Homo sapiens: one gene and its partners. The protein of the gene in region 2 interacts with the protein of the main gene of each other region in a pairwise test. Each region holds a gene or a part of one and is shown on either strand. Other genes may lie near its edges.

The links.
Region 1: the proteins of NIF3L1 (region 2) and SYT17 interact in binary tests that used the Homo sapiens proteins (3 or more experiments, as listed by UniProt).
Region 3: the proteins of NIF3L1 (region 2) and TXN interact in binary tests that used the Homo sapiens proteins (3 or more experiments, as listed by UniProt).
Region 4: the proteins of NIF3L1 (region 2) and DMC1 interact in binary tests that used the Homo sapiens proteins (3 or more experiments, as listed by UniProt).

What each region holds. Positions count from the first base shown.
Region 1 is NC_000016.10:19,262,224-19,268,844, reverse strand, and holds the end of SYT17 (synaptotagmin-17), read right to left. Parts: intron 1,966-6,621; coding exon 1,769-1,965; 3' UTR 513-1,768; downstream 1-512. UniProt on the Homo sapiens protein: Plays a role in dendrite formation by melanocytes.
Region 2 is NC_000002.12:200,892,371-200,899,398, reverse strand, and holds part of NIF3L1 (NIF3-like protein 1), read right to left. Parts: coding exon 7,020-7,028; intron 6,154-7,019; coding exon 5,991-6,153; intron 4,136-5,990; coding exon 4,009-4,135; intron 2,324-4,008; coding exon 2,185-2,323; intron 15-2,184; coding exon 1-14. UniProt on the Homo sapiens protein: May function as a transcriptional corepressor through its interaction with COPS2, negatively regulating the expression of genes involved in neuronal differentiation.
Region 3 is NC_000009.12:110,246,504-110,253,531, forward strand, and holds part of TXN (thioredoxin), read right to left. Parts: intron 4,960-7,028; coding exon 4,855-4,959; intron 4,377-4,854; coding exon 4,317-4,376; intron 1-4,316. UniProt on the Homo sapiens protein: Participates in various redox reactions through the reversible oxidation of its active center dithiol to a disulfide and catalyzes dithiol-disulfide exchange reactions.
Region 4 is NC_000022.11:38,567,159-38,574,648, forward strand, and holds the start of DMC1 (meiotic recombination protein DMC1/LIM15 homolog), read right to left. Parts: upstream 3,026-7,490; 5' UTR 2,885-3,025; intron 2,233-2,884; exon of another isoform or gene 1,917-2,232; intron 1,252-1,916; exon of another isoform or gene 1,132-1,251; 5' UTR 1,099-1,131; coding exon 1,048-1,098; intron 470-1,047; coding exon 425-469; intron 1-424. UniProt on the Homo sapiens protein: Participates in meiotic recombination, specifically in homologous strand assimilation, which is required for the resolution of meiotic double-strand breaks.

The DNA of each region.
Region 1 (6,621 bases), on a different chromosome or scaffold from region 2:
GAATAATTGGCATTAGTACACTGCTCAAGTCAGACAGACATATTGCAAATACTCAACATTCTTGACCCCCAAAATCTATCAGTATAATAAATATCATTGTTTTGAAGCTGGGTGCAGTGGCTCATGCCTGTAATTCCAGCACTTTGGGAGGCTGAGGCTGAGGCAGGTGGATCACTTGAGGCCAGGAGTTCAATTCCAGCCTGGCCAACATGGTGAAACTCTGTCTCTACTAAAAATACAAAAATTAGCCAGGGGTGGTGGTGCACACCTGTAATCCCAGCCACTCGGGAGGCTGAGGCAGGAGAATTGCTTGAATGCAGGAGGCAGAGGTTGCAGTGAGCAGAGACTGCACCACTACCCTCCAGCCTGGACAACAGAGTGAGACTTTGTCTCAAAAAAAAAAAAATCATTGTTTTGACTTGTTCAGTATGGTTTGTTACACAGCAGTACTAGCTGCAATGCCCTCCCACCTTCTATGTCCTGTGTTCATGAAGAAAAAGATAACTCGAATGCATGGCACAAATAAATAATCTTTAATTTCAATAAATAGCTCCCCATCACACCAGACATTATGCTGTGGAAAAAGATACAGAAGCATCCAACAGAGAGAGAGGAAAGAGAGAGAGAGAAAGAGAGAGAGAGAGAGATCTATTCTAACTACACTAATTCCTTAGCACGAGAGACGTGACATTCGTTCACAGAAAAACACAGAAAGATCCTCAGAGTATGATTAAGGAAGAAGATCATCATGGATGGGGTGTGATAGCCATTTTAATCCATATATCAAGTCTTTGTATGTCTTTCGTGGGTCACAATCACCATGATTCGGTCAAAAAATGTTACTTTTGCTCTATCATATCCTATTTACTTTACACACACACACACACACACACACACACACACACACTACTTTTATCCAAAGTGGGATCTCTGACAGACAGGAGGACACTGGTTGGACTCTCACTGGACAGGAGAGGCAGAGAGAAGGCAGTGCTCAGGGCTGAGGTCCTGGCCCATCGCCATGCTCTCCAAGAGGACACATAGGCACACACGTGTTCGCCTGTGAGGGCACATGCACGAGGACATACACATACATACCCACAGGGCGTTCCCTGGGATGAGCTAACACAAGAACAATTCTGTTAAGCCAGGAAAGGCTTCTGACACTGGAATAGTTTTGGTTGCCATTTGGTTTCTCCAAATGGCCCATAATCTAGTTATCACATTTACTACGGAGAAGACAAAGATACTTACACCTTTGGAGAAAGGTATCAGGTTTGAAGAACCCCAGGGAACAGCAGCCTGTTCAGAAGTTACCCAGTAGGTGTGTGTTTCGGAAGTGGGGGGTGTTCAAGTCTCCCACACACTGGCCAAACTCTTGGTAAATTTAGTCTTGATGGAGCTTGGCACCCTTTGGGAGGTCCTTTCTCTGGCCTGAGGGTTGAAAGTGCATTTTGGGGCAGGAGTATTGACAAGAGCAGGCACTGCCAATAAGTCCCACGGCAGAGCCCACTGAGCTTGTGATCTATGGATGGGGCTTCCGGAAAGTTCCTAGGCCTCACTCAACTGAGGGCGGCCATTTTGTGATCAATAGTCAGCTTCCTCTCAGTTCTGAGAGGATTTGGGGTATCTGTGTGTCTGTGTGTGTGGACGTGTGTAGACATGTTGCGAGTGTGTATGCAGGTGTGGATGTAATAGTATGTGACACATTTTTTTCCGTCTTTTTTTTTTTTTTTTAAACAAATGAAAGCTGCCTTCCCTGCAGCCCTCAGGTCACCTCCAGGGAGGCAGGAGACACGCGGTCACACTCAGCTCGGGACCTCAGGCTATGCCACTGCTCCACGGCTGTGCGGTGCGTGTTGAGCATGCGCCTCCAGTGGTTGGTCTCAGAGGGGCCTGAAGAGTACTGGCCAATGACGATCCTCCCGATGAAGTCATTGCTGCTCTTCATGTTGTGGCCGAAAACTAGGGAGCCAGAGGGTTGAGGGCAGGAGGGAGGCAAGAGGAAGGAGGGGAACAGAACAGGAAGGCAGGGAGAAGACAAGAGGCCATTAGTCTACACATTTGTCAACTGCAAACATGGGGGTCATCGTTTAGGGCACGCTGTCTTTTTCCTTTTCTTGGTGAGAAGTCCAACTCCCTCATCTCATCCTCCTGTGAGTCTCTGCAACAGCTGCACCTGGTTTCCTGCCATCCCATGCCAGCCAGATTCTTACCTCTCAGCCTTGGCATTGGCTGTTCCTTCTGCCAGACAGCTGCACCGCCTGCAATATGCAGCCTTAAACGTATGTCCCACGGCATCACCACACTGCATATAGAGCTCTGTAAGTGGATAGTTCTAGTGGAACAGTGAGCCTGTCAATGTAGTCCAGTTGAGCGATTAAACCAGGGTTTCTCAATCATGGAACTGTTGACATTATGGGCGGGATAATCCTTTGCCGTAACTGTCCTGTGGACTGTAGGAAGTTTAGCAGCATCCCGGGTACCTACGTACTAGAAGCTGGTAGCAGCTCTCTCTACAGCTGTGACAACCCCAAATGTCTTCGGACATGGCCAAATGGCCCCTGCGGAGGCCAATGCATCCCAAACGGGAACCACTAGGTTAAGCCATGGGCCATGGGACCAAATATCCTGGGAGTGAATCCTGGCTCTATCATTTGACCAAGCTCTGTGTCTCTGAGGCAGGCGAAGTAACCTCTCTGAGCCTCAGTTTCTTTATTAGTTAAACAGGAATTTTAGTAGTGCTTCTCTCATAGGTCAATGTGCAATTTCTATGAAATAATGTGTGTAAAGCTCTCAGCACACAGTGCCAAGCAGGTGGTAAGAGCTCAACAAATGTTATACTGCTATTTTGAGCCTAAATTTCTGTCTGTTGACCTTTTATAAAAGAGACTTCATGTTTCCTCTGTTCCATCAAATGCTGGAAATTTTCTGAGAGTAATGGCTACGGCAACTTCTTCCACCCCTTGTTGTGCTGCATGTCTCTTTGAAAGGCTTCTCTGTTAATCCCAACTTCAGCTTAATTTGTGTCTTTCAAGCCTAATGAGACGGTTAACTTGATTTATCTTCCCGGCCAAGTTCCGCCTAATTCTTGATCTGTGTGTGGGTAGTCCAGGCATGCCATCTCACTAATGGGAAAGCAGGCTATGCCTGTGTTATAAATGAAGGGCTACAGAATGGGAAATATCACAGATTCACCCAGCGTGAGCCGAGCAAAGGCAGGCTAGATCCCAGGAGGGATGCTGAATATCATATAAAGCAACTAAAATATGCTGCCAAAAACAGAGCTTGAATGCTAATGAGCCTCTGTTCTCCCCTGTGGGTTTCACACCACGAATTCCAAATGATGAAAATGAGGGAGAAAAAAGAAAAATGGAAAAATAAAAACAAAAACTCCATCCATCGTCCAAAAGCCAAAAAGACTTAGGGAAAACTAGGCTACGTGAAATACTATGTCATCTTCAGCAAGAGGGATGGGTACCTGTCAGCTCTGTGGAGAAAAATTGGACCATGTATATTTTTTGTACATTTGGTAACATGCTCAGTATGCATAGGTGGACCTCATTTACATGCAAATTACTTACAAAGAGAAATAATAGGAATGGAAGCTTTGCTTAATAAATGAAATTGCTAAGGAGCTCTCTGCATTTGAAAAAATAATTGAACAGGTAACACTCAAGGCTTTTAGGAATGACACTTAGTGGGCAGTGTAAGGTTTGATCTCACCAAATGAGGACAAGTTACCAGAGTCCCCTTCCCTGTGAGCCTCAAATCTAAAATAAGATACTATTATGAGACCACTTCAGGCCCCATTTAGTTTTCTTCTTTGGGGGCAAAATGTTCTATCTTCTTCTTCCTCTCCAAAGCTCAAGAATGACAATGCAGAAACTTCCCTTCTAAATGGGTATGGGTTCTACTTCTTTGTGAAAGGGCTTTAAGAAAGGAAATTCTGACTGGGCACGGTGGCTCGCATCTGTAATCCCAGCACTTTGGGAGGCTGAGGCAGGTGGATCGCTTGAGCCCAGGAGTCTGAGACTAGTCTGGGCAACATGGAAAAACCCTGCCTTTACTAAAAAATACAAAAAATCAGCCAGACATAGTGGTGTGTGCCTGTAGTCCCAGCTACTCAGGAGGCTGAGGTGGGAGGATCACCTGAGTCCAGGGAAGTCAAGGCTGCAGTGATGGTGCCACTGCACTGGCTCTAGCCTGGGTAGCAAAGTGACCTTGCTTGTCTCAAAAAAAAAAAAAGGTGGGGGAAATCTCAGTCTCACGTACTCTCATGTGCCGCTGGTGGAAAAGCAAGTTGGTTCAAATTTTGGGGTGGTTCACAGCATCTGTTCAAAATAAATATGTCATAACTCATGACTCAGCAATTTCACTTCTAGGAATTGATCCCATAGAATTTTCTGCACAAATGGACAAAAATACACATACAAGGATATTTTATATAGCAGGAATGGGCAAACTAGAGCCTCCCAGTCAAATATGGACTACTACCTGTTTTTGTAAATAAAGTTTTATTGGAACACAGTCAAACCCATTTGTTTACATAATGCTGCTTTTGTGCAAAAAGGGCAGAGTTGATGTCTTAGTCCATTCAGGCCGCTGTAACAAAATGCCATAAACTGGGTGGCTTATAAACAACAAAAACTTATTGCTCACAGTTCTGGAGGCTGGGAAGTTCAAGATCAAGCCACTGGCAAATTCGGTGTCTGGTGAGAAGCTGCTTCCTCATAGGTGGTATCTTCTCACTGAGTCCCCACATGGTGGAAGGGACAGGCTAGTTCTCTGGGGCATCTTCTATAAGGGCACTAATCCCAATTATGAGGGCTCCAACCTTCATGACCTAATCATCTCCCAAAGGTCCCGCCTCCTAATGCCATCACTTTGTGGGTTAGGAATTCAACATACAAATTTGGCAGGGTGGGGGACAACTATTCAGACCACAGCAGCTGAATAATTTGGAGGCCATGTGGCTCTCAAAGCCTCACATATCTGCTATCTGTCTGGTTCATCCATGTTGTAGTGCTACTTTTTATGGCCAGCTAACGTTCCATTGTATGGATATGCCATGTTTTGCTTATCTGTTCATCAGATGATGGACATTTGGGTTGTTTCCACATTTTGACTATTATTATGGATAATGCTACTGTAAACATTTATGTCCAAGTTTTTTTTTTCTTTTCTTTTTTTTTTTTTTTTTTGAGTTGTAATTTCACTGTTGTCACCCAGGCTGGGATGCAGTGGCGTGATCTCGGCTCACTGCAACCTCTGCCTCCCGGGCTCAAGTGATTCTCCTGCCTCAGACTCCCAAGTAGCTGGGTACAGGTGCCCACCACCATGCCTGGCTAATTTTTGTATTTTTAGTAGAGACAGGGTTTTGCCACATTGGGCAGGCTGGTCTTGAACTCCTGACCTCAGGTGATCTGCCCACCTCGGCCTTCCAAAATGCTGGGATTACAGGCATAAGTCACCATGGCTGGCCTATGTACCAAGTTTTTAAGGTCATATATTATGATCCATTTATATGAAATGTCCAGAATAGGCAGATCTTTAGAGACAGAAATTACCATTAGTGGTTATCAAGGATAGAGGAAAGAGGGAATGGGGTGTGATAGCTAATTGGCACAGGGCTCCTTTTTGGGGTGATAAAAATGTTCTGGAATTAGATAGTGGTGTTGGTTGCACAATCTTGAAAATATACTAAAAAGCACTGAATCGTATACACCAAAAGGGTGAGTTTTAAGTTATGTGAATTTTATCTCAATTAAACAAATTGCCAAAAGGGAATACAAAAAAAAAAAAAAGATTATCTGACTCCTTATAGAAAAGTTTGCTGACCCCTGCACCAGGGCATTGTTTATAAGAATGAAAAACGGGAAATGGCAAGACTGTCCCTGAGGGAGTGTAGCTGGGGCTGTTGGTGCCCTGCCTACCCCTCAGCCCACCTTGGAGGCTACTCATGGTTTCTATAGATAGTGTCCTTCCTCAAGCACCTGCAGCTTCCTGCCTGAGCCATGCCAGCTTGTCTGTGCTAACTGTGATTTATGGTGAGGACCTTGGGCCACTCAACATTAGCTGGACCTCTGCAAGCTACCTCTGCAAGGAGGCTCAGCTACCCAGATGGTCAGCCATGACTATATGACCAACGTCCTCTAACTATGCTGGACACCAAGGCTCAGGTGAGTCTTCTTGGGTGGCAATACCCTAAGTGTGTTGTCACACATCCTTGCAAGGAGAATTAGGCACTGCTCGTATAACTCCAGTTGAGGAGAACAACTGGAAGCTTGCATCTGGTCTCTCTTGGACTTTTTCCTATGACAAAGAGGACTCTTTCCCCTTTCTTAGTCTGCTGGGCTGCTATAACAAATTACCATAAACAGGGAGGCTTATAAACAACAGGAATTTATTTCCTAATGGTTCCAGAAGCTAGGAAGTCCCAGATCAAGGTACCAGCAGATTCAGTGTCTGGTGAGGGCTTGCTCTCCTTCATAGGTGGTGCCTTCTCATGCAATAGAAGCAGCAAGACAGTTCTCTTGGGTTTCTGTTATAAGGGCACCAACCCCATTCATGAGGACAGAGCCTTCATGGTCTAATCACCTCCCACATGGGGATTAGGAT
Region 2 (7,028 bases):
TTTGACTTGAGACTCTTCAAAACAGAGGAAACAAGAGACCAATACTTTACAATTCCCTTTCATTTTACTATTATAATTTGTACCAAGAATCCTAAACATAATACAGATTTCACTCCTGGTCTCATCACCAGTATATGAATTGTTCTTACTGCATTTTAAAAAAAACATGTTTTAATATAAGCAAACAGGTCATTCTTTGATATTGCATAGCTAACCCAAGGCATGGTTATTATTCCTTTGTTGTGTTTTTTTTTTTCAACAACCTTTGTAAATTGCGCAAAATACGGAACAATGCACAAATTTGCGTGTAATCTTTGCATAGGGGCCATGCTAATCTATATCATCCAATTTTTAGTATATGTGCTGCTGAAGGGGGCACCGTTATTCCTTTGGACATGGCTGCACAAACTCACAAACCACTGAATAGTACTAATGGTGCAGCTCTAGGCTGTATTGCAACAGTGCTAGGTAAAATAATCTCACCTGGGTCTTCAGACAACAGTGAGAGGTAAGCAAGTACTATCTCTATTCTCAGGTGAGGAAGCTAAGGAACTAAAAGGACTATAAAAAGAGGAATGCTACAAATGGATTTGGCACTATTTTTAAATATACTATTTATTCTCAAAAAGCATCCTCTGGAAAGTGAAATAACAGCAACTTTCGAGCCAAAATCCAAGTATTTAGCACTTGGGTTTCTAAAATGAACACTTTAGTGGACACTCCAGTTCAGCAGCAGGGTATCTCAAAGAGGGGGCTTTGGAGTTATTTTGGAAGTCAAATCCCACCTCTGCTATCCATTTTCTTTGGACACTAACTCCCTTGGGTTGTTTGATCTAACTGGACTTTTAGATAAGTTACTGATATGGTTTGGCTCTGTGTCCCCATCCAAATCTCACCTTGAATATAATCCCCATAATTCCCACGGGTCAAGGGCGGGACCAGGTGGAGGTAATTGGATCATGGGGGCAGTTCCCCCATGCTGTTCTTGTGATAATGCGTGAGTCTCACGAGATCTGATGGTTTCATAAGCATCTGGCATTTCTCTTGCTTGCACTCATTCTCTCTCCTGCCACCCTGAGAAGAGGTGCCTTCCAACATGATTGTAAGTTTCCTGTGGCCTCCCCAGCCATGCAGAACTGTGAGTCAATTAAACCTCTTTTCTTTATAAATTACCTAGTCTCAGGTATTTCTTCATAGCAGCGTGAGAACGAACTAATAAAGTTACTTATCTCTCTGAACCACAATTGTTCACCTATAAAATGGGAGAAATAGTACCAACCACAAAACTAACAACAGCTAGCACTTTATACTTAATGTGAGCCAATCACTGTGCCATGTCACATGGATTATACTACCACCTTCTGAGTTAGGTTTTATTAATGCAGTTTTTACAGATGAGGCTACTGTGACACAGAGGGCATAAACTTGTCAAAGACATGCAGCAAACAGGACAGACAAATCTGAAGCCAGGTTGTCTAAGCTCAGAATCCACACCTATAACCGCTGTACCCCACTGCTTTTGCCAGCAGGAGCTCACGTACTTAGGACAGACAATCAGTACAGTGCTAGGCTCACTGAAGGTGTTGAACAAATGTCTGTTCACTCTTTTTGTTCTCAAAAGTACCAGGAAAGGCCAGAAGAAAAAACTACAAGACTTAGAAACTACAATGGATCAGATCACTCAGTAGCACCTCACTAGAAAATATTACCAGTCTTATAAGTGCAAAGTTTATGTTGTAATTGTAGCAATCATGATTCCAGCTCTCTTCCTGACACATGGTAAGACTGCACTTTATGCCTCCCTTGCTTGTATTGGGCAACATGACTAATTCTGGAAAATGAGTTGAGCAGAAATTAACATGTTTCCTGGAATTTTAAACTGATGGTTTAAGACCCTGCAAAACTCCCTCCCTCTGCAACAGCAACCAGTCTACAATGGTCAGACTTCCTACAATGACCAACTTGAAATGAACACATAGCATGACAGAGAAATAAATCTCATTGATTAAGTCAATGAGATGTATTCCACATCAGAACCTGGCCCACCCTAATCAATAACGTAAACCAATTATCTCCTATGAGCTGCTAACACATTCTCTATCACATATTAATACAACCAAGAGTTTCGATCTTTGTCCAATGTTAACAGTAGGCATACTGGATAGATGAAGGAGCTATATTTACCTAAGGTTCTCCCCACCCCAAGGGCTAAGCGAATATGAGATAGTTTTAGGTGTCTTTTTATTCGATCAATCATGGTTGCCAGGGAGACAGATTCATCCAGTGTGCATAACCGTCCCATTCCAGTATGTAGAAGCAAAGGCTGAGGAGAAACAGAAGTTAGAAACGGTGTGCATTGTTAGTCCTAAAACAACAAATGCTAAAATCATCAACATGCACACTGTGAGATTACTATAGCAAGCTCCAGGCTAAATGTGGGGATACAAACCTGACAAAATCATTCTTCTAGGAGTTCACAGTTTTCTAGGAAGGCAGATGTTTAAATCAATAATCAGGCCAGGCGCGATGGCTCATGCCTATAATCCTAGCACTTTGGGAGGCTGTGGTGGGTGGATTGTTTGAGCTCGGGAGTTTGAGACCAGCCTGGGCAACATAGTGAGACCTCATCTCCACAAAAAAATCCAAAAATTAGCCAGGCAGTGGCGTGCGCCTGCAGTCCCAGCTACTTGGGAGGCTGAATGGGAGGTGGGCTTGAGCTACCCAGGAGACAGAGGTTGTGGTGAGCTGAGATTGTACCACTGCACTCTAGCCTGGGGACAGAGCCAGACCCTGTCTCAAATAAACAAAATAATAAAACTGTTTAAATACAAGGTAGGTGCTACAGTTGCAGCAGCACAAAGAATGACAAACTAAATGAGCTGTGACTTAGGAGGCTTGGGGAGTACTTGGAGGAAGGACTTAGGTCTTAGAGAAAACCCTAAAAGAGTTAAAAAGGGGGAAATAAAGAGTTTAAAAAGGGGTGATGTCAAGTGCAGTGTGGCAGGACAGAGGTACGATGAGATGGAGAAAGGCATTCTAAACACAGAGGACATGGACAAAGGTGCCAAAAACTTGAGAGAACACACTATGGGGGCAGATCCAAAAGAAGACAGTATGGCTACTGTGCAGAGTACATGCTGTGGAAGGAGAGGAGGCTGGAGGCCCAGGCTGTAGCAGATCATTAAGGGCTTCCAACACCATGCTAAAGAGCCTGGACTGCCTCCTAGGTGCTCGGTGAGACTACTCTCATCGCAGAAAATGAGAGTTTCAACTACTGTGGTGGCAGAGCCAATACAGAGGAGAAACACTGTATAGATATGAGGCCAGACTCAGCAGGGCCTGGAGTCAAGGAGGAATGTGAAAACTTGGAAACTAAAGTAGATAATGATACTGAAATATGAAATATGGAAAAAAAAAAAAGCGGGGGTGGCAAACGGATAAAGTATTTGGATATACTGAATTTGAAATACTTGTGGGCTCTGTAAGTGCAAAACATCCAGAAAGTAGATGAAAATATGGGTTCTTGTCATTTTTTCCCTTAAGAAAGCATTCTAAGCCAAAAAGTAAAGATAGAAATCATCATACAAATGGCTATCAAGTTAAAGAAGTGAATGACATGGTCCAGGCAGAGCGTGTAAAATAAGGAGACAGCAAACCTGTAACCAAATCTGTAACCCTGAAGACGTACCAATATTTTCCTGTTCCTGGAATGTCTCCCTTTCTCAATTACTTCCTAGAGAATATTATGCTCTCATTGCCATTTTGTACTTTAGATAACAGTGAATGGCCTGTTGATCTAATAATTTACAAATGAATTTGCTGAAGAAAAATGCAAAGTAATGATATTCATCAAATTGTACACATCAAATATGTACAATTCTTAGTATATCAATTATACCTCAATAAGGTATACCTCAATATACCTAAGTATATCAATTATACCTCAATTATACTGTTAGAAAATGTGTGCACAGTATTTTAAGATCAAATACAAAATATTCTTATTACCTTCTCCAGTGACAGAATTTCCGTCTTCTGATAAAGTTGTTTGTTCCGGGAAAGAAAATCTACCACCTGCATCAAAGCCTTCTGAGTACAATTCAGATTAATCCGTGTTTGTTCCTCATTACCAGTCCTAGGGGGGAAAAATCACTCCATTTAGGACAAATATAGCCAAAATGTATTTTAGATAATCCACAGTTTACAAACCTACTATAATAGATTAGATTTATGTGGAACCAAGGATTTAACCAACAGAACCCATTTAATCTGAAACTAATCCATTTTCTAGAATAGCATTTCTCTAACTCTACTGGGCATCAGAATCACCTGGAGGATTATTAAAACACAGAGTGCTGGGCCCCACCCCTGGAGTTTCTGATTCATTATATCTAGGTGGGGGTCTGAGAGGTTACCTTTCTAACAAGTTCCAGGTGATGCTGATGTTGCTGGTCCAAGGACCTCACTTTGAAACCACTGTTCAAGAACTGTTCTCAATCCCGATTGTGCATCAGAAATTTCTTGGCCAGGTGCAGTGGCTCACATCTGTAATCTCAGCATTCTGGGAGGCCAAGGTGGGCGGGTCACTTGAGCCCAGGAGTTCAACACCAGCCTGGGCAACATAGCAGGACCCTATCTTATTATTTTTTTAATTATTAAAAAATTAAAGTTAAAAAAAAAAAAAAAAAGAAGGCCAGGCACAGTGGCTCACACCTGTAATCCCAGCATTTTGGGAGGCCAAGGTAGGTGGATTACCTGAGATCAGGAGTTCAAGACCAGCCTGTCCAACATGATGAAACCCCATCTCCACCAAAAATACAAAAAAAATTAGCCGGGCGTGGTGGGGGGCGGGTGCCTGTAGTCCCAGCTACTGGGGAGGCTGAGGCAGGAGAATCACTTGGACCTGGGAGGCGGAGGTTACAGTGAGCCAAGATCACACCACTGCACTCCAACCTGGGCAACAGAGTGAGACTCTGTCTCAAAAAAATAAAAAAAATTCCTTCTAGCTTCTTAAAATAACAGCTGCTGGATCCTTCCACAGAACCAGTGAACAGAACATCTACAAATGGGGCTGGGGCAAAATGAATTTTTTTAAAGCCTTAGAGATGATAATTTTAAAACATCATTGAATTTGAGAATGTCCTGGACAGATTCTCAGGCAAACTCCATTCTAATTATAAGGTCTGAGGTGAATACAAAAATCTGCATTTTTTTTTTTTTTTTTTGAGACAGAGTCTCTCTCTGTCTCCCAGGCTGGAGTGCAGTGGCGCGATCTCGGCTCACTGCAACCTCCGCCTCTCGGGTTCAAGTGATTCTCCTGCCTCAGCCTCCTGAGTAGCTGGGATTACAGGCATGCGCCACTACGCCCAGCTAATTTTGTATTTTTAGTAGAGACGAGGTTTCTCCATGTTAGTCAGGCTGGTCTCAAACTCCTGACCTCAGGTGATCCACCAGCCTTGGCCTCCCAAAGTGCTGGGATTACAGGTGTGAGCCACCGTGCCCAGCCTGGGAGTCTCTTAAAACAAACAAAAAAAGACTATTCAGAAAAATATTTCCCATGATGTTAAATAAAAAGACTGATTTATGAAAATATATATTTAAAATGTAAAGATAAATATAAAAAAGCACTTGGGAATCACTGATTTGCTGGGAACCAATAAAAGCCTTATCACCACATCACTAGGATCTATCTGTATTCTCTAAAGTAAAAACAACTATCTTTGAACATTACCAGGATTAGAAATACTGTAGGTAAAATGCATAGTATAGTCCCCTGACATAGAAAATACTTAGTGTTACTTACCGTTTTTATTGTTTTGAAAAAATTCCATAGTTCTCCAGGACCCACAAACAAATGAGGAGTATGCTACTTTGTAAATCAACTCCAGAGAAAACTATTTGTTTCAAGCCTAAATACCAGGGTTATAGACTTTGTAAGGAAGATGCTTACCAATAAATACACACAAAAAAAAGAGAAAAATAAATTGTACCTAGCAGAAAAAGAAGTGACAGAAACACCGTCAATTCCTTTCACTGCAGACATGACTTTGTCCAGGTCTTGGGTGTAGTTAACGTTGAATTCTACTCGGTGGTTTCCCTCTGTAGGGTAGTTGGGAGCTTTGGAAGGATGTATGGGCCTGGAGGTACAAGCTCCTAGAGAAAATATTGTGGGAAAATGGGAGTTTTGGGGGGTGAGAGATTAAGATTTAAAAGTAAACTATTATAGGCAAAATTTCTAAGAAATGACTTTTTAAAAAGATTCATTCTCATGCTTACATAACATACACACATCCCTTAGATATACATCACCAGTCCCCATAATCTAGGGCTTTGGCATGGACATACAAAATCAAATTATTTTCAGAATTATTTTCCAAAAGATTCTTAAATCTCTGAAAAACTTGGACAAGAAAGACTGATTCATACATTTTCAGATAATACACAGAATGGTCTACTGCTTGGTAAATCTAGCCATGTAAACCATCATTCAGGTTGCAAATGCTCATACTTTATTTGACCACATTAATCCAGATATCATCATAAAAGCTTTAGCCCAAAATGAGTAAACTAAAGACTTACTAAAATAAAGCTAAAATCCATCCATCATTCCCTCATTGTGCTAGGCATAAGTAAACATTCACTAAAAACATTCATTAAAACCCTGATGTCTATTTACTTGACTTATCAATCAAGTGTATTCTGGAGAGGCCTGAGCTTTCAATTCAACAAGCATTTTCCAAGTGCCTGGGTGACAGGCATTGTGCCACAAAAGTGAGGAATCATGAAGCTCAGTCCAGTAAGGAAGACTTCTGCTCTCCTTACTCCATAAGAATAAAAAATGTTTCCTTTTTCAAATGCAATTTAACTGCCAAATTTCAGCAACATTATTTTAAAATTATTATATAAAAATGGAATCATGCCCTCCCCAACCCTAAAGCAGTTAAAACTTTACTGGAAAGACATCCTAAAGTTTCAAAGTATTTGCAGGGAAAATATCAAATATGAAAGAGGCTTCTCACCAAGCCCTT
Region 3 (7,028 bases), on a different chromosome or scaffold from region 2:
ACTCAAAAGAGGACTGGGAAAGAAATATAGAACCACTCAGCACCTAAGCAGCAAAAGCTACACAGGACAGCAAGCGAGCAGGCAGGACTGTTGATAACCAAATCACGGAAACCAACGGAGAATTCTCAAGGGGAAGAAAGGCCAGCTACAAACACTATGACGACCTCTAGGATGGTGGGTGGCACTACTGTTGAGGAGTTCTTTCTAGGTAATCTTTACTTTTTCTTTTAATGCTGGACACCTGCTGAGCATGAAAGTACAGGTTCCAGTAAGAGGCACAAGGACAGTAATGGCTGGAATAAAAATGGTGAATGTTTATTGAATGCATACTATTGAAAACTCACTCCAAGTAAGGGTCAGAGGGAGGTTACCATTTATAAAATAAGTATCATAACCCTGTTGGCTGTCAGAGAAATAAGGTTGGTCTATCATTTTCAAAAGGGCTACTACTCATACTTTTCTATCAATCTATGGAGGCAAAGTTAAAGTTCCTCAGTTTGTCAGAGGGTCACTTCAAGGTTTTAAAAGACACTTTCAGGCCAGGCACGGTAGCTCATGCCTCTAATCCCAGCACTTTGGGAGGCCAAGACGGGTGGATCACTTGAGGTGAGGAGTTCGAGACCAGCCTGGCCAACATGGCAAAATGCTGTCTCTACTAAAAAGTTGAAATTTAGCCTGGTGTGGTAGCGGCTGCCTGTAGTCCCAGCTACTCAGGAGGCTGAGGCAGAAGAATCGCTTGAACCCGGGAGGTGGAGGTTGCAGTGAGCAGAGATGGTACCACTGCACTCCAGCCTGGGTGACAGAGTGAGACTCTGTCTCAAAAAAAAAAAAAAAAAAGATACATTCAGGGTGATCAGGGTGCACCAAGCAGACATGAAGGAGGAGCTCTGTCATACGGAAGTCCTCGAGTGCTTTGCACACCTATAGTAATGCACCATATAACATTTAGATCGACAACAGATTGCATATATGTGGTGGTCCCATAAGATTATAATGAAGTTGAAAAATTCCTCTCACCTAGTGATGGGTTAATGTCATAGCCCATCGCATTAGCTGGTGCAAACAAATCTGCGCTGCAATTACATACAAAGTATACCACTACAGACTGCTTTACCTGCGGAATAGCCATTCTTTTGTTCCTTTACTTTCTTAATAAACTTGCTTTCACTTAAAAAAGCATATCACTACAATTATGGACAGTATATACTACTTGATAATAAACACCCACGTTACTGGTTTTTGTATTTACTTTAATTTCATTATTAATTTAGAGTGTACTCCTACTTATTTTTTTAAAAAGACAGTTACTATACAACAGGCTCAGGCAGGCCCTTCAGGAAGCATTCCAGGAGAAGGCACTGTTATCATAGGAGATGAAAGGTCCATGCATGTTACTGTCCCTGAAGACCTTTCTGTGAGACAAGATGTGGGGATGGGAGACAGTGATACTGATGATCCTGACCCTGTGTTGGTCTAGGCTAATGTATGTGTTTGAATCTTAGTTTGTAACAAAAAGTTTAAAAAGTCTTTTTAAAAAAAGCTTATAGACTAAGGATATAAAGAAAATATTTTTGTAGAGCTGTACAATGCATTCGTGTTTTAAGCTAAGTGTTATTACAAGAGTTAAAGAGTTAAAAAAATAAAAAAACTATAAAGTAAAAAAGTTACAATAAATTTATTGCTGAAAAAAGAAATTTTAAAAATAAAATTTGTAAGCATACAGTGTTTATAACGTCTACAGGTTCTAGGCCTTCACATTCACTCACCACCCACTCACTGACTCGCCCAGAGCACCTCTCAGTCCTGCAAGTCCCGTTTATGGCAAGTACCTTATAAAGGCATACCATTTTTTAATCTTTCATATCATGTTTTCACCATACCTTTTCTATGTTTAGATACACAAATACTTACTGTTGTGTTATAACTGCCTACAGTATTCAGTACAGTAACATGCCTTACCTGTTTGTGGCCTAGGAGCAACAGGCTTTACCACATAGCCTAGGTGTACAGGAGGCTATGCCATCTAGGTTGTGTAAGTACACTCTATGTGTGCACAACAAAATTGCCTAACATTTCTCAGAAAGTATCCTCATCATTAAGTGATGCATGACTGTACTTCCTAAAGGCAGTAAGAAGACCTGTCCTCAGTACAGTATGGTGCATTGGTCTGCCTCAAGAGACTGACTTTACCTTCTGTGCTGCAGTGCCATTACCTGTTCAATGAGGGTGCTAATAAAAAATACTCGTATAGTTATCGTGAGGATTAAATGACATAGTGCATGCAAAGGGCTTATCATGGCATCTGGCACCTATTATTGCTTTCAAATAAAAATCAAGGCCGGGCGTGGTGGATAATCCCAGCACTTTGGGAGGCCGAGGTGGGTGGATCACCTGAAGTCAGGAGTTCGAGACCAGCCTGACCAACATGGTGAAACCCCGTCTCTACTGGGGTTTTAATTTTGTAAAAATACAAAATTAGCCAGGCATGGTGGTGCATGCCTGTAATCCCAGCTACCCAGGAGGCTGAGACAGAGGATTGCTTAAACCCGGGAGGCAGAGGTTGCAGTGAGCCGAGATCATGCCACTGCACTCCACCCCAGGTGACAGAGTGAACTCCATCTCAAAAAAAAAAAAAAAAAAAAAAAAAAAAAAAAAATCAAGTTGCTATCTGATAGGATCAGTGGCAGTTAGAATTTCTCTATTCCAGGTGCAATTTTCCCCTAGCTAAATTGACCTTAATAAGACTAAGTTTGATTAAAACAAGGGATAAGGATTTTTCACAAAAATGCAATTACACTCTTTTTAAAAAAAAAAAAACAACTCTGGGACACATCTAGAATAGTAACTTAACAACCATATCACATTCATCATTCATTCATTCCACACCTATACTACATGCAAGGCAGGTGTGCTAGGTGAAGGGGCAACCAACGTGAATTAAGACAGGGTCTCTGATCCTAGGAATCTACTGAGACTAATGGTAAAGGACAGACATAAAGATCATTATAATAATTGCCAAGATTCACTGGGTACTTAGGGCACACAAGGCGGTAAGTGGAGAAGGGGTGAAGCTCATGACAAGGAGTTAGTCAGGTAGGAAAGGAAAGGACAGGCCAGATGGAGAAGACAGCACAAGCCAAGGCAGGGGTTGCCCAAGGCACAGAGTCAAAAACTGGCTAAGAATACACAATCTGGGGTTGTTGCGCCCTCCCATGTTTAGAGAGCACTGCCATATGCCTGTTTTAAGTGACCCTTCACCCTTTATTGGATATTCCATGTTTGCTCAATGAATAAGCAACCTTGGGAGGTTGATGGGGCAGGTCTTAAGGCTCAAGGAAGAGGAGTGACTGGCCTAAGCAGATGCTAGTGAGCCAGGACTGGAAGCCAGGTCCAGCGCCTCTGTTGCCACACTGCACCCTTCCCCCATCGCCTTTCCTTCTCCACTAGGGCTAAGTGAAAATGCTCACATATCTGTAAAGGGCCCCGAAGTGATACCTCCTCAACCCGCTCTCCTAGGTCTGTGGTCATGTGCTAAGCACCCGATCTACACCCACAAGACAGAGCATCCTCCGATGGGTAGTGCTTAAGGTCAAGGGCTGGGAAGCCAGACCACTTCATTTTAAATCCTAGTTCAGCCACATACTCACTGAAACTTCATGAACAACCTCTGTGTTTCAGTTTTCTCATCTATAAAATGGGGATGATAACAGCACTCAGGATTAAATGAACTGATACTTAAAAACCACCCAGAACAGTGCCTGGTATATACCTAGTGCAAAACAAGTATTTGTTAAATACAACCAACCCTGGAATTTCTTCCAAATTATTCTCTCAGGTACCTTGGTGTTTATTTGTTAAAACATTTGTGGTTTCTAATTGACTAAAATCAACCAAGACTAGAATAGGCTTGCAAATGCAGGTTCTCATGCTACTGCAAGTTCACAAAGAGCCCTACAAGCGGTCTCATAATTTGGTGACTCCATCAAGCCTATGGATGTAATGATCATAGCTAAATTCAATCTCCATTTATTGCACATCTCAGAGTGTAAAGTAGAATGTAGGGTTTTAGAAAGGTGGGTGGCCGATAAGATTCAGAAGTCTCACTCATTTATTTTTGTTTACTTTAGGATGTGATATACAGCTCCCGATAGCTAGGATTAAGCTCCTAACTTGCCTGCTCTTCTGAGATAGAACTTTTTAGATAGGATTACAGTTCTAGAATTATTTGACATATTTATGGAAAAAAGCACTGTGCAATTCAGAGAAAAAGGCCAATGTGAAAAGCTCAGCAGTATCTCATATTTCCAGCTACATACCTGACAGTCATCCACATCTACTTCAAGGAATATCACGTTGGAATACTTTTCAGAGAGGGACTGGAAAATTTAAAATGAAAAATCCAAAAAGATTTAGAACTAGGTAATGGCAATCAACATACCCAAGCTTCTTAAATGGAAACTTAATAAAAGTAGAGACTAATTAAAGATCCAAAAATTTAGATCTTTGGAGACATAGATCTAAGAGACATAAATTTTCTCTAAATCAAATTTTTCTTAGTATAAAACAGCTTGGCATATCAAATTCTGAGGCTGGGATTTCAAATAAGGCCCATGTTTCAATGTGGGGAAAAAAAGAACTATTTAAGACAAAATTAACTTCTAAAATTTGTTTTCAATGGGCTACATGTATCAAACCTAAATTATTTGTTATACTACTACTTTTAGACCAAAGATCCAGCCAAAGAAATCCCCCCACCGAAACCAAAATCCTTTAACTGTCTTTCTTTCCTACCACTGTGACCACCAACTCAAAAAACACAAATCTCTTACAAAGCAGACATTGTTTAATACTCACATGAAAGAAAGGCTTGATCATTTTGCAAGGCCCACACCACGTGGCTGAGAAGTCAACTACTACAAGTTTATCACCTGCAGCGTCCAAGGCTTCCTGAAAAGCAGTCTAACAGCAAAAGAAAAGCTTATATTAAATAAATAGTTAAATATTAAACCTTCAAAAGAAAGACTCGACACAATGACACAAAGCACATTCTGGAGGTCCTCCTTTCAGGACCTACTTTTTAGCCAAAAAAAAAAAAAAAAAAAAAAAAAAATCCCCAAACAAGCCAAATAAAACTCAGTTTGAAGAAATTCTATACATTGTTGGTAGTGTTACTTGATAAGATGAAACAAGATATGTGTAGAGTATACTGACATTCTCTTCATAACTATTTTATAAAATATTGTGAACTGGCTATTTTTTCTCTACACCAAACAAAAGGAAAATAAAAATAGACATTTGTATTAAAAATGTTTCCATGTCAAGGCTAGGTATATGGTAGACATTCATTAAACACTTATGGATTATGAAAGGGGTCACTTGAAGTCACAAAGGCATAGGATTTTGCAATTGAAACATCACAAGTTACTTAAAGATAAAAGTTGGCTGGGCATGGTGGCTCACACCTGTAATCTCAGCACTTTGGGAGGCCGAGGTGGGCGGATCACTAGGTCAGGAGTTCGAGACCAGCCTGGCCAATATGGTGAAATGCTGTCTCTACTAAAAATACAGAAACTAGCTGGGCGTGGTGGCATATGCCTGTAGTCCCAGCCACTCAGGAGGCTGAGGCAGGAGAATAGCTTGAACTCAGGAGGCGGAGGTTGCAGTGAGCCAAAATTGTGCCACTGCACTCCATCCTGGGCAATAGACGGAGACTCTGTCGCAAAAAAAAAAAAAAAAAAAAAAGCTATGACTTTTGATTAAACTCATTTGTCTATGGTGGACCATACGAAAATCTAAAATTTTTTGAAAAGTCAAGGAAACTCACCTTTCCCAAACCTCAACACTCAGACATCACCGTTGACATAAGCATAATGGGGTTTCCAGAGCTGAGATCACACGTTTACCAACCTTTGATTTTTGCCCTTTATTTTAAAACTATACCCTTGTCATTCATTAAATGAAAGTTTTCGTTCCTCATGAAGGAAATTTTTCATAGATATTATTTTTCATAAGGAATGCTTGTTAAATAAAATTCTCAGTAGAAATGATCAAGAAATCTCTTACCACTAACTTCCCTGAATTATTTACTATCTAGATACTGTAACCCTGGGAACCGAATATTCTAGTTACCAAGGACTCATTTTTGTTTTGTTTTGTTTTTGAGACGGAGTTTCACTTGTTGCCCAGGCTGGAGTGCAAAGGCCTGATCTCGGCTCACAGTAACCTTTGCCTCCGGGGTTCAAGTGATTCTCTTGCCTCAGCCTCCTGAGTAGCTGGGATTACAAGCCTCTGCCACCAGTCCCAGCTAATTTTTGTATTTTTAGTAGAGACAGAGTTTCGCCATGTTGACCAGGCTGGTCTTGAACTCCTGACCTGAAGTGATCCACCCGCCTTGGCCTCCCAAAACAAAGGACTCATTTTAACCACATTAGTACGTTAGTGCTGACCAAACCCAAAAACCAAACCAGAGCAATTAAGATAAATCAAAACATAAACATCTGTATCTGAAATCTAGGTTTTCTTCAAGGAAACAATGCTGGTCAAATAGGTTTAAAAAAAAATGAACATTCCCCGCCCCCCACCGCCACAAGAGGTCTCGTAAAGAAAGAAATCAAATAAATAAAAAACCATAAGATAAAAAACCAAATAAACAAAAAAAAACCCAACAAGAAAACACTAATATGACCTCATGTACTAATAGTTACTTCTCTAGATTTCTAATTTCTACCTCGTTTTTGGGAAAATAATTCACAAATGGTGTTCCTGAGAAAGGTAGGACAACACTTTCATAAATTTTTTAGTTATGCAAATCCCTGAACCCCACCTCTAGAGGTGGAGACATGGGGAGAGCTGCAGCAGGGTACATAGAAGTATAGCAATTGTTTTTCCAAATCATCACTTATTGTTCCAGATCAATTTCATTCAAAGCCTTCCCTAATGTGATTTTCAAGAAAGTTAAACCAGGCATCCTTTATTGCAAGATCCAGGTAAGACAGGAAAAAAGGTCAAGAAATGCCAATGTCTGGTTG
Region 4 (7,490 bases), on a different chromosome or scaffold from region 2:
CCAAAGGACCAGGATTTTCTCTTGCTTCTATTTTCTAAAACCACTGAAAGAGATTAAATGTTAGGGCTACAACAGATAATGTCAGCACAGTTTTACTATCAACTGATTGCTGTTGAAATCCACCCAGGTCATTATTCAAAGGCTGGATTTCTGCCAACATCATTTATTCCAGTCGCCTGACATATAGAACTTAATTTTGTCCTCTGGATACACTTGACAATGTCTGGAGACATTTTGATTGTCACAGCTGCAGGGGTGCTACTGACATGCAGTGAGTGAGTAGAGGCCAAGGATGTTGCAAACACCCTACAATGCACAGGACGTCCCCTTGCAACAAAGAATTATCCAGGCCCAAATGTCCATAAGGTTGATGCTGAGAAATCCTGAATCAGACAATTTAACACAGCATTGAAAAACTACTTACAATTCCATGTTTCTGTAACAGGTCAATATCTTGAAACAAAGATTCCTAAAGGAGATGAAACAGAAAAAATGAAGTTTTGATTCTTCATATCCAGCTATTTCACATCTTTTAAAGAGGTAATTCAATACTATGAGTCACTCCAAAATGCCTCAAATTCCGCTTCTCTAGAGATTGAGGAAGGATCAATACCGTTTTTCAAACACAGAAGAAGCACCAACATTGAAAGGGCTGGGAAGCCAGTTACCTTTGTCATGTCCTCCCTAAAATTTTAAAACCTTTACCCAAAGGACTGGAACAACATTTGAACTATTTTAAATATGTTTTCTCAACCCTCTTCCCCTCCAGATCCTAAACTCCTTCCTCTAGGACCAGGCTGCTATTCGGTACCCGTGTGTGTAGGTACCAGTATGGCCATACCAGCTGTTAAGTCATTAAAATACTTTCATACCAGTTGCTAAGTAGCTAATCTTAGCATCCTTGCCAAACAAGTTGTTACATATTTGCAATATATAACTATGTGTTATTTCTACTTTCAGCTTCTAAAAATAGTAGCTAACAGGGAAGGAACTTGATTTTTGCGGAATGATCGAATGTCTATATATCTTTCAACATTTTAGTCATACCTCTTCATCTTGGAATCCTGGTTCTTCCGCCACAACTTGATCCTCCTTCATATTGAAAAGTGGGCAACAGAAAAATAATCACTTCTGGGAAAATAAGAAATATTATGTAAGAAGTAGTCCTTTGTCCAGGGGCCTCTGATTTCATTTCAAAGTCAACAAGGACTAGAAGGACAGTAAGAGAAGCATTTAGCTTGGAAAGATGAGGCCAGCCTATCTTCTTTCTGCGAGACATGTGACATTATTTCTTGTGTGTGTGTGTGTGTGTGTGCATGTGTGTGTGTGTCCCCACATGCACACAGATGCCTGAGGGGCAAATTGGGGGGTGCTTATTTAGTTTCTTCTCTTTCCCCAACAGTGATCACTTATCATCTGGTTTCCATTGCACAGCTAATCATGACTTTATTACTGCCTTGAATGTTATTTAGAATTGCATATTGCTTTTAACCTTTCTTGTTTATGTTTAACAACAATACTCTAGGAACCTTGACATTATATCATTCTTCCTTGTGTCCTCCCTGACACCTCCAACTTTGTCCTCAATAAATGGATTCTATTTTTCTCATCTATGATGAATGCCTTCCTGCCTGCTGATTATGAATGGGTACTCCTGTAACATCCACCTTTTTGTTTCATAGAACATTAGCTATACTTTCTTTCACAGTATTTACTAGTTTCATGATTTTTTTAAGATTTAAAAATATGGTGGTCCGGGTGTGGAGGCTCATGCCTGTAATCCCAGCACTTTGGGAGGCCGAGACAGGCAGATCACGAGGTCAGGAGTTCGAGACCAGCCTGGCCAATCCCCGTCTCTACTAAAAATACAAAAAAATTAGCCGGGCGTGGTGGTGGGCGCCCGTAATCCCACCTACTTGGGAGGCTGAGGCAGGAGAATCGCTTGAACCTGGGAGGCGGAGGTTGCACTGAGCCGAGATCATGCCACTGCACTCCAGCCTGGGCGACAGTGCGAGACTCAGTCTCAAAAAAAAAAAAAAAAATTGGTGGATCATAATATTATATTAAGGCTGATAAGCAGTTAAAGTTTTTAACATTGTAGACTCAAAAAGAAATCTCAGGAATCCACAAGGCGTGATTGTGTTTATTTATTACAATAAAATGCGGTCCAAATCATCATTTTTCTTGGTCGATTCCATTTCCTCATTTGATACCAAAGTCAGGGGTTGGACCCTAGAACAAAGGGAACGAACCATTAATACTAAGGCAGGAGCAGGGTCCTACCACCCAGCACCTCAAACGGCAAAGGATGGAAGGCAACCGAGACCGTTCGGATGGGATCTTCGGGGACACTGTCCTTCAGATGGCTAGCTATGAGTACCCCAATTCCACATTTACTGTCCCCATCGAAGAGAAAAACAGCATTCATTTCTTCTCCCCGTGATGAAATGAAAAGATTGTCCCCCATCTCTCAAGGAGCCGTTGATAGACTGAACCGTTGGATTGAAAGTAGGGCTCCCCAATCCCCCGGTTTAAGACGACCCAGCTGTCCCCTCTGGTGGGGGCAGCAGCGCGGTCGGGTCGCCCTCGACGCCTCCCTCAGCAGGAGGCCTGGGCAGACCCCCTGCGGCCGCCGGACATTTTCCTGACACCGGATTCCCTGGTCAGGAGGATGAGGCGGGCTCTCCTAGACTCAGGTCCGATTCGATTGAAAATGAGGTTGGAAATCCCTCAAGATCACTAAAATTCCTCCCCAAAGGTCGGAGCGGAACGCTCAAAGTCACTAGCCCAGGGACCCCAAAAAAGGAGCGAGAAAGGGAAGCGCGCCTTCTCAAAACGAGCGTCCCCTCAGAGTCTTCGCACGCTGTTCGTTTTTGCCACTTACCCCCCTCGTACCCACAGTCTCCCCGAGATTTTCAAGGTGAAGCCCCTCTGCCCCGCCCGACCTCCTCAGCTGACAGGATTCTAACTCGGGCCTAGAACACGGAGCCTGGAGACCCGCGCGCCGTTGACCACAGGGTTTGGCGCCAAACGAGGAGGGCGGGGCGAGGACCAAGGGGCCGGGGCGGGGCGCAGGGTGAGGGTGGAAGGGCGGGGAGGGAGCAGGCCTACAGAGGGCGACGAGGGGCGGGGAGCAATGGGGGCGGGGCGAAGACCGAAGGGCGGGGAACGAGCGGGCTCACAGGTGGGGGGACCAGAGGGCGTGGCCTGGAGGGGGCTCAGGGCGAGGGGGCGGGGCGAGGGCTGAGGCGCGGAAAACGAAGAGGAGCCCCAGCGGGTGGCGAGCTGGGATGACGGAGGGAGGGAGGGAGGGGCGCTGTGGAAGGAGCGCGCTGAGGAGCGGGGCCTTGAAGGGAGACCGTTGAGCTGGGGCGTCCCTCGAGCTGAGCACCTCGCTAAAGTCCGGGAGAAGACCCTGAGGCGGGGTTCTGAGGAGGTAGCCTTGAGTCGGGGGAGGGGCGATGAGCAGAGGTGGCTGACTTTGGCGATAGGTCTTGGTCGCGAGGGTTGCAGATGGAGCCTTGGCTTAGAAGGTCGAATCCGGGCCCGTTTCCCCCCGCCCCCGCTGCCCATGGCTTCTCTTTTCACCTCCAGGTTTTCATGCTGGCTTCAGAGTTTGGCCGTGCTCCCTCAGCGTTCCTAATTTCCCACTTTCTGACTCTCACCATTTGCCACTCTTGTCTGTGATTGAGACACCCGAGGCCCATTCAGGATGGAGAGTAATTTTTTCTCTGTCTTAACTTGAAGTTTTAAATAGACCACAGACGCCAAGTATATTTTGGTTCAGCTTTTAAATAGAAGTCGCAGGCCAGCCTTCGTGCCAGCAGCGCCATCGCTGGCAGCATCCTCCTCCTCCCCTCACGCGGAGACTGACTTGGGGAGAGTCAGGAAACATTTGAGAGAGCAGCTGCCGAGGTGGAGGCTGTGATGTATCTTGGATGAATCTCTGTGCAAACAGTTCTTTGGGTTCAAGACCTAGTACAGGGCGATCCTTTTTGTTTTTTCTGTCTGAATCATTTTGGTGGAATAAATAGCAAAACATTCCCACAATAGCAGTTGGCATTTTGTGTAGGACGCACCCCCCCAACAGGTGGATTGTTTTAAGAGCCAACAAATAACTGCCATTGTGCTTCCAAATCTGTTATTTTCCCCCAAACACAGTCGTCCTTGTTATATGGAGATGAATGCCCATTTGGGGGAGGAACTGGATAGTGGTGAAAGGCTTTCGCTCTGAGGCCTCACCTAAATAATTATGGGAACTTTTGAGCAACTCGTTAGGTGAAGACATCAACAGTCTACAGAAGAGCTGCAAAGAGCACAGCAAGATGATTTAGGGAAATATAACATATGTAGTTTGGTGTAGTGACAGCTGGGAGAGAGAAATGTTCATAATATTTGAAGGTTGTGTGCAGTACACTTAAAAAAACTAAAATGAGCTGGGTAATGACAAATTCATGAAGGGAGGAGAAAAATCTTATCTGGGTATCATATCGATGGTTAGAGACAACTTTTAAGATATTTAAAACAACAACAAACTCTAGGACAGTTAAAAAGTGCACATGAAGACTTTCCACTAAAATCGGAACCAAAAAAATTGTCTTTCGTATCATACAAAAACTCTGAATATCATGAAGGTGGCATTTCACATCAGTGGAGAAATGATGAATTCAGTGAATAGTGTTAGAACAACTAGGTAACCATCTGGAAGAAAAATAAAATTGGAACCACACTTTACACATTATACCAAAATAAATTCCAGACAGATCAAAAAATTAAATCTGAACAATAAAATAATAAAAGTACTAGAAGAAAATATGGGATATTTAAAATTACTTTGTAATAAGAAACATCTTTTTAAGTATGCTACAAAACTCAGAAGCCATGAAAGATTGTTAAGTATGCTTATATTTAAAAAAATATATCCTGCATGGCAAAATGGTACTTTCCTATCCACAATATAGAACATGGCAAACCAGAGCTTTTGTGTCAATTATTAACTGGATAATATAGCTTGCCTAATTTTTCAAATCCTTCAGGAAGTCCACAATTTCTCTACACAATTTTAAAATTTTGTGTCTTTTTATGATATTTTTAGAAATAAAAAAATAGGCAGTGGGATTATAGTTAAGACCTGAATTTTAAACTATTACACTTTACTGCCCCTCCGTGGACAGTCACCTTATAACCAAATAGAGGCACAGGATTCCAGCGCGTATAGTTGGGCTTCTACAAAGTGATGCTTGCTGATACATATTCTTGAAATTTCAAGAGCTTGAATTTGAGAAATGCTTTAGTAGAGAACTAAAGAATGAAGGCTCATCACGTACAAATTTCACTGGGTAGAATTCCCCTTAAAAATATTTGTTTGTTTTGTTTTGCTTTTTGTTTTTGAGTCAGGGTCTCCCTCTGTCACCCAGGCTAGAGTACAGTGGTAAGTAAGATCTTGGCTCACAGCAGCCTCAATCTCCCGGGCTCAAGCGATCCTCCCACCTCAGCCTCCTGAGTAGCTGGCACTACAGGCACAAGCCACCACACCCAGCTAATTTTTTGGTATTTTTTTTGTAGAGATGTGATTTCACCATGTTGCCCTGGTCTCAAACTTCTGGGCTCAAGTGATCCTCCCATCTCAGCCTCCCAGAGTGCTGGGCTTACAGGCGTGAGCCACTGCATCCAGCAGTGTTCCATTTCTTTATCTCCAATTTCAAATAATTTCCCTTTAAGAATAAGGTACTTGTAGCCTATTGCTGAGACCTGTACCTCTTAGTGGCTCTTCCCCTGGCTACATAAAGGTTTAAAATGACTGCTGTTTGTAAAGAGTCGATTAAAATTTTAACCTAGGGTCTTACATTATTCACCTCCAGTTACAAGAAGGAATACGGGGTACCATAGGAACACATGGGAGGGACATCTTATTCAGTTTGTGGGTAAGTGGGGAACATGGCATTTAGAGGCTGACACCCATGAGTAATTCATTAGTCAGGTAATAAGAGGGAACCAGTACTAACTTAAGAGAGTGCATTTAGCTGGAGCTCAATACTTATTTGTAGAATGAATGACTAGTAAAACACCTCTTACATTCGCCAAACTTTCTCTTTTTTTCTCAGTATTCTAGTTCCATCAATCTTGTCATGCTTTTTTTCTTACACTTCTAGTTTATATAGACATTTCAAATACTGTGTTTCTTGCCTCAGCAGAGGGAATATTCTGAAAGATACTAATTCTGCAGTGTGTGGATTTGCATTAACCTAAAGGGGTTTAGTATAGATTTACTGGAAAGAAAAAAAATCTGTAGGATTATGAACCAAAAAATAAAAAACCAAAGTTCCCATCTTTATTCAAAGCATTGATTAGCAAAAATAAAAGGCAAAAGTTGTATATATTTTTGCATATCTACTTCTTTCTTTCTTTTTTTTTTTTTTGAGGCAGAGTCTCACTCTGTCACCAGCCTGGAGTGCAGTAGCGTGATCTCAGTTCACTGCAACCTCTGACTCCCTCGTTCAAGCGATTCTCCTGACTCAGCCTCCTGAGTAGCTGGGATTACAGGCACATGCCACCACATCCAGCTAATTTTTGTATTTTTTGTAGAGACAGGGTTTCACCATGTTGGCCAGGATGGTCTTGATCTCCTGACCTCGTGATCTGCCCACCTCGGCCTCCCAAAGTGCTGGGTTTACAGGTGTGAGCCACCACACCTGGCCGCATATCTGTTTATTTCTGATCCTACTTTTCAGTCACCTAATAAGCATTTTTCCATGTCTTAAGCATAATTTTAAATGATTGCATAATATTCCATTGAATGTATTATTAACAAATTCCCTGTTATTGGACATTACTAATTAGTGTCAGCATCTTTTTGCATTGTTTGTTTTTTAGGATTACTTTTATTTATTTATAATAAAAAAATAGAGATGGGGTCTCGCTACGTTGCCAAGGCTGGTCTTGAACTCCTGGGCTCAAGCAATCCTCTCACATTGGCCTCCCAAAGTGCTGGGATTACAAGCATGAGCCACTGCACCCGGCTGAGGATCACTTTTCTTAGGGTAGATTTCTGGATTTATAATCATTGATTGAAAGGCTGTGGACAATTTTAAGGCTATTGATAAATATTTAAAGCTCATGGAAATATTTGGTTGTACTAGTTTCCATTTTCTAGTTTCCATTTACCAGCAGAGAAAGAGTTGGTTATTTCATAGCTGTCACAGAGCTTACAGTCTAGTAGGAAAGATAGATTTTATACAAAGAACTATATAAGCAGAATTGTGAAAAATGCATTAAGGGAAAAATAGTGTGCACTGTGCTAAGCACACAGATAGAAAGGTGACTAAGTCTCTGCTGTGGAAAGCAACAGTGCTTGGGAGAGGCAGACCGATAAACAGGTTGTTCCTTTAAAAAAATTGTTTTAGGCCAGTTGCAGTAGCTCACGCATGGAATCCCAGCACTTCAGGAGGCCAAGGCAGGCGGATCACGAGGTCAGGAGTTCGAGACCATCC